Regions from separate parts of the Homo sapiens genome. Here region 2 is linked to region 1. The links come from fine-mapping of genetic effects on gene expression. A gene starts in region 1. The other region holds a variant in brackets. All regions are shown on one strand. Distances are from middle to middle.

The links. PIP is the estimated chance that this variant, and not a neighbour inherited with it, causes the effect. A credible set is the group of variants that fine-mapping cannot tell apart.
Region 2: its variant is the best candidate, but not a certain one, in a credible set for the expression of SNU13 in whole blood (INTERVAL, PIP 0.66).

The regions. Positions count from the first base shown.
Region 1 is chr22:41,687,422-41,690,219 of GRCh38, reverse strand. SNU13 (small nuclear ribonucleoprotein 13) reads left to right here and starts at 1,353. Exons shown (of 3, transcript NM_001003796.2): 1 at 1,353-1,426. The coding sequence starts at 1,424. It also overlaps the pseudogene C22orf46P. RefSeq lists enhancers at 1,254-1,433, 1,984-2,153 and a silencer at 1,673-1,872.
Region 2 is chr22:42,224,199-42,226,996 of GRCh38, reverse strand. All of the region lies in intron 1 of TCF20 (transcription factor 20), which reads left to right. Among named protein-coding and RNA genes, the nearest start is that of TCF20, 45 kb to the left of the region's middle. The variant G/A (reference allele first, on the strand shown) is at 1,523.

The DNA of each region.
Region 1 (2,798 bases):
ATTCTTGTTTAACCACTCAACATGCCTTTCTCGTTGCTTGCAGTATCCTGATTTCCTGTGGGGGAATTACTTTTCCCATCTTAGGATCAGTGTTGGTGGGAAAATAAATGTTACCCTGAAGACTCTTTTACCCAAAAGTTCTATTCAAAATATTAAATATCTGAGCAGGCAGGGACGTCAGCCAATTATAATGAGCCAGGCCTTAACTGTTTAGTGGCTGGAATTTTTTTTTTTTTTTTTGAGACCGAGTTTCCACTCTTGTTGCCCAGGCTGGAGTGCAATGGCGCGATCTCGGCTCACTGCAACTTCCACCTCCCAAGTTCAAGCGATTCTCCTGCCTCAACCTCCCGAGTAGCTGGGATTACAGGCATGCGCCACCACGCCCGGCTAATTTTGTATTTTTAGTAGAGACGGGGGTTTCTCCATATTGGTCAGGCTGGTATCGAACTCCCAACCTCAGGTGATCCGCCCGCCTCAGCTTCCCAAAGTGCTGGGATTACAGGCGTGAGCCACCGCACCCGGCCCTCTTTTTTTTCTTCTTTTTTTTGAGACGGAGTCTCACTCTGTTGCCCAGGCTGGAGTGCAGTGTGCAGTGGTGCGATCTCGGCTCACTGCAAGCTCCGCCTCCGGGGTTCACGGCATTCTCCTGCCTCGGCCTCCCGAGTAGCTGGGACTACAGGCGCCCGCCACCATGCCCGGCTAATTTTTTGTATTTTTAGTAGAGACGGTTCACTGTGTTAGCCAGGATGGTCTCGATCTCCTGACCTAGTGATCCGCCTGCCTCAGCCTCCCAAAGTGCTGCGATTACAGGCGGGAGCCACCGCACCCGGCCGGCCTTTTTTTTTTTTTTTTTGAGAGTCTCGCTCTGTCGCCTCAGCTGGAGTGCTAGAGTGCAGTGGCATGATCTCAACTTACTGTAGCCTCCACCTCCGGGGTTCAAGCGATTCTCCTGCTTCAGCCTCCTAAGTAGCTGGGGTTACAGGCGCCCGCCACCACGCCTGGCTAATTTTTGTATTTTTTAGTAGGGACGAGGTTTCGCCATGTTGGCCAGGCTGGTCTCGAACTCCTGTCCTCAGGTGATGCGCCCGCCTCGGCCTCCCAAAGTGCCGGGATTACAGCCATAAGCCGCTGCGGCCGGCCGGTGGGTTACTTTTTGAATGTTTAATTCATTGTTTCTGCCAATAATTTGTACTAGGCAGCTCATAAGAACGCCAAAGTACGTTCCTTCTTCGACACAGGGCCAGTTTCCGCGCCAGTGCCCCCGTAGAGGGCGGGGCCCACTCGCTCGCGTAGCGTCACCTTCGCTTCCTGCCGCGCGGGGCCATTTCCGCTGCTGCTTCTGTGAGTTTTTCCGGTGCACGCGAGTGCTTCTGAAACGTCAGCTGCGCTCCCCTAGGAGTGCTGAGCCCGCGGAACCGCAGCCATGGTGAGTGCGTGCGCCGGCCGAGGGACCGGGAAGCGGGAGACTCAGGGTTGCGTTCACTCCCTAGCCTGTTAGATGGAGGCTTAGAGCCTGCGCCGTCTCATCCGCCGGCGTTGGGTCTTAACCGCCGGGCCCTTAGTTAGAACCCCAGCAGCGGCGGGGTCCCAGCAGCCTGGCCCGAGGTTAGAACTCAGGAAACCTTAGGATCCCCGCAGCTGTGTTGCTTTGCCGCACGGTCTGTTTGCTTGGCAAAAGGCCTGCAGCGAGCGGAGGGGGCATGGCCCAGCCTGGGAGAAAGAGACCAACCCACGTGGGAGAGGGCAAAAAGTTGGGTGAAGAAAACTTGGCTCCAACTTTTTTTTTTCCTTGTTTCTTTTCATACGAAATCTACGATGGCGTGGGACCCTGGGATTCGGATCAACCTCTCCTACCCACCCTACCTCACCCCACCCCCGTTGCTGGGGTTCAGGAGGAGATCTCCCATGGGTCTGCGCTTAGTGCCCGCCGCGAGTCACACGCGCCAGGGACCTAGAGGAGCCTTTGGCATTTGGGGGCTGTGGGGAACATGAAGTGAGCGCGACTCACGGCCTGGAGTGCAGGAAAGGCTTCTCCTGCAAGGCGGTGGCTTCAAAAACCAGAAGTCTGGTAGCACCACGTGCGGCGTCTCTAAACTCTTGGTCGTCTCTGACTTTTAAACATCTAGGGAAAGTTCTAAAACGTGTGTCCTGGCGTAGTAGTTTTGGTTGGCACTTGGTGAGGAGGGAAGAATTTGTAAAGCACTGTAACTTCTATAGTTAATCCTTCCAGTGGAGCTTGGATCCCGGCGGTAGCACTCCCCACAAACCTCCTCCCATGCATTTTGAAGCTTAGTACGTGGCTGAGCCTAGAACTTGAAGCTTCCAAACTCAGTGCTCGCTTTAACGCAGCTCCCTGAAACGTTTTGGAATCGGATGGTCTCAGGTTGAACTTTGCAGTTTTCCTCAACTGTAAAATGGGGATGACAGTGCATGAGGGTGTTGTGAGGATCAAATGAAATAAAGCATGGTAAACATCTAGTCCTGATGCTTGGTACAGAGTAAGCACGCAGTATTTGTTGTTCAATCAAAACCTTGCAAGTTTTGGCTGTCTGGTGTACAGCGAAACCAAACTGATCATGCTAGGTAGGGATTTAGGTTGGCTGGTGGTATGATATCATTCGTTAATTTATTTAACCCCTGAAGAAATTGAAAGGCAAATAAATACACCCTAAGCAAGTTTCAATTAGTGTTTATAAGCTAGTTTGGTTTTAAAATTGAGTTTAACTTTTTTGTTGACTAATAGTGAAACATTTAGGTATTTAATGATTGTTCAGATTCCTGAAGTCTTCCTCTTTTAT
Region 2 (2,798 bases), 540 kb before region 1:
AAATTATTTTTTAATATCCTATTGAGATTTTGACTGGAACCTATTAGAATTTTATAAACTAATATGTGGAGACTTAACGTCTTTACAATACTAGCCCTTTTTATCTAGCTATACCATTTGTTCTGCTAGTTTGTTTCTTTCCTTTTGTTTTGAGCTTTTTTGGGTTGTTCAGTGAAGTCTCTAATTTTCATATAGCTTTTGCCCACTTCTGCTTTGGATTGGTCATTGATATCTTTTGAATTTTAATTCAGAATTGTATTTGTTTGTTTTATTATTATTTCTTTTTAAGAGACAGAATCTCACTCTGTCACCCACGCTGGATGGAGTTCAGTGGCGTGATCTTGGCTCACTGCAACCTCCACCTCCTGTGTTCAAGCGATTCTCCTGCCACAGCCTCCTGAGTAGCTGGGATTATAGGTTTCCGCCACCGTATGTGGCCAGTTTTTGTATTTTTAGTAGAGACAGCATTTCACCATGTTGGCCAGGCTGGTCTTGAACTTCTGACCTCAGGTGTGATCTGCCTGCCTCAGCCTTCCGAAGTGCTGGGATTACAGGCTTGAGCCACCAGGCCCGGCCTCAAAATTATATTTGAATGAATTATAAAATGGAACATCCTTTTAGCCTATAAGTGGCAACACTAATTACCTCCCTTTTGCCTCTGAAGGTTTAGAAATTATGTATTAATACAACCTTTGAATGAAAAAATATATTCAATGACATCTCAGAAGCCCCTACGCTCAGCATTTAAGAAAATCCCACAGGAGCCTCTAGCTAGCCCCAGAGATGTCCTGCTCCCACCCTTCTCCTGCCCCCTTTTTGGGAACTGTTTGGCCATCCTGCTCACATATGTGGTCATCTGAAGTGATCTTGGGATGCCCCTGTGAAAATAAGACAGATAGCCATGGAGTGGGGGTGGGGCCAGGATAGGGCCCAGGTGCCTTTGGTCTGCTCAGGAGCAGATTTATAGCATCTCCTTGCAGAGTTACAGAAGCATGTGGTGGATATAGGATGCTTGCAGCCTCTTGGCTGTTTGAAATTATGCCTAATAATAGGCCTGCCGACTGTGGGTTGGAATTCAGCTGACTTTAGGCCTGATTCTCAAAAAATAATTTTGAGCTAGTGACCCTGTGTGCACACTTGCCTGGGCACTGTGGTGTCCAACAACCCTGTGTGTGGCATTGGCACCAGGTTTCCTGAAGTAGAGGTCCTGTCTGGCAGGCTCCTCCCTTCCCTCCTGCTTCTGACTTGTGGGGTCCCCTGTGCCTCTATTTCTTTCCCTTGGGCAGAGCAGCACTTTGCTGTCAGTAGGAACAGATAAAGCTCTGATACTGTTGAGATAGTTCAAGGGTTGTAATTTTTTTTTTTTTTTTTTTTTTGAGACGGAGTCTCGCTCTGTCGCCCAGGCCGGACTGCGGACTGCAGTGGCGCAATCTCGGCTCACTGCAAGCTCCGCCTCCCGGGTTCACGCCATTCTCCTGCCTCAGCCTCCCGAGTAGCTGGGACTACAGGCGCCCGCCACCGC[G/A]CCCGGCTAATTTTTTGTATTTTTAGTAGAGACGGGGTTTCACCTTGTTAGCCAGGATGGTCTCGATCTCCTGACCTCATGATCCACCCGCCTCGGCCTCCCAAAGTGCTGGGATTACAGGTGTGAGCCACCGCGCCCGGCCTAAGGGTTGTAATTTTTAAATGAGGTTAATGACATTTTGGCTGAGCACTGTGGCTCACCCTGTAATCGCAGCACTTTGGGAAGCCAAGACAGGTGGATCACTTGAGGTCAGGAGTTCAAGACCAGCCTGGCCAACATGGCGAAATGCTGTCTCTACTAAAAATACAAAAATTAGCCGGACGTGGTGGCAGGCACCTGTAATCTCAGCTACTTGGGAGGCTGAGGCAGGAGAATTGCTTGAACCTGGGAGGCAGAGGCTACAGTGAGCCAAGATTGCACCACTGCACTCCAGCAGTGCAGTGTAAGACTCTGTCTCAAAAAAAAAAAAAAAAAGTGATTATTTCCTACACAAAAATTAATGTAAATAGAAATGAAAAGGGGAAAAAATACTTCCACAACACTGCCATCTTGGATAGTCCAGAAGTTTTCCTTTTTTCTCCATTATTCCCTTTGGCCTGGGACTAAATGAATGCCTCATTTTCAGATAGTTATAATCATAGCACAGGTATAAGTTTACGTGAGCTGCTCTTTTCATCTGATACTATGTAATTTTCTATGGTGCTAGAGTCTTTGCAATTGTTTAAAATGATTATGTACTATTTCTTTGAGTGGATATACCATAATTTGTTTAATCAATTTTCAAATAGGTTGTTGCCAGTTTTTTCTTCTAATACATATTACTGGAGTGAATATGTTGGTATTTTGTTTTTTTGTTTGGTTGACTGTTTTATTACCAGTTTTCTTTTCCAAGAGTCATAATCATTTATGGTGCTTTTTTTTTTTTTTTTTTTTTTTTTTTGTACCAGCTTTAGCCTAACCTAACCAGATGGGATATCATCTTTTAAATTTTTTAGGAAATTTTTTTTTTGAGACAGAGTCTCGCTTGTTGCCCAGGCTGGAGTGCAGTGGTGCGATCTCACTGCAATCTCTGCCTCCCAGGTTCACGCCATTCTCCTGCCTCAGCCTCCTGAGTAGCTGGGACTACAGGTGCCTACCACCACGCCCGACTAATTTTTTTGTATTTTTAGTAGAGACGGGGTTTCACTGTGTTAGCCAGGATGGTCTCAATCTCCTGACCTCGTTATCCGCCCACCTCGGCCTCCCAAAGTGCTGGTATTACAGGCGTGAGCCACTG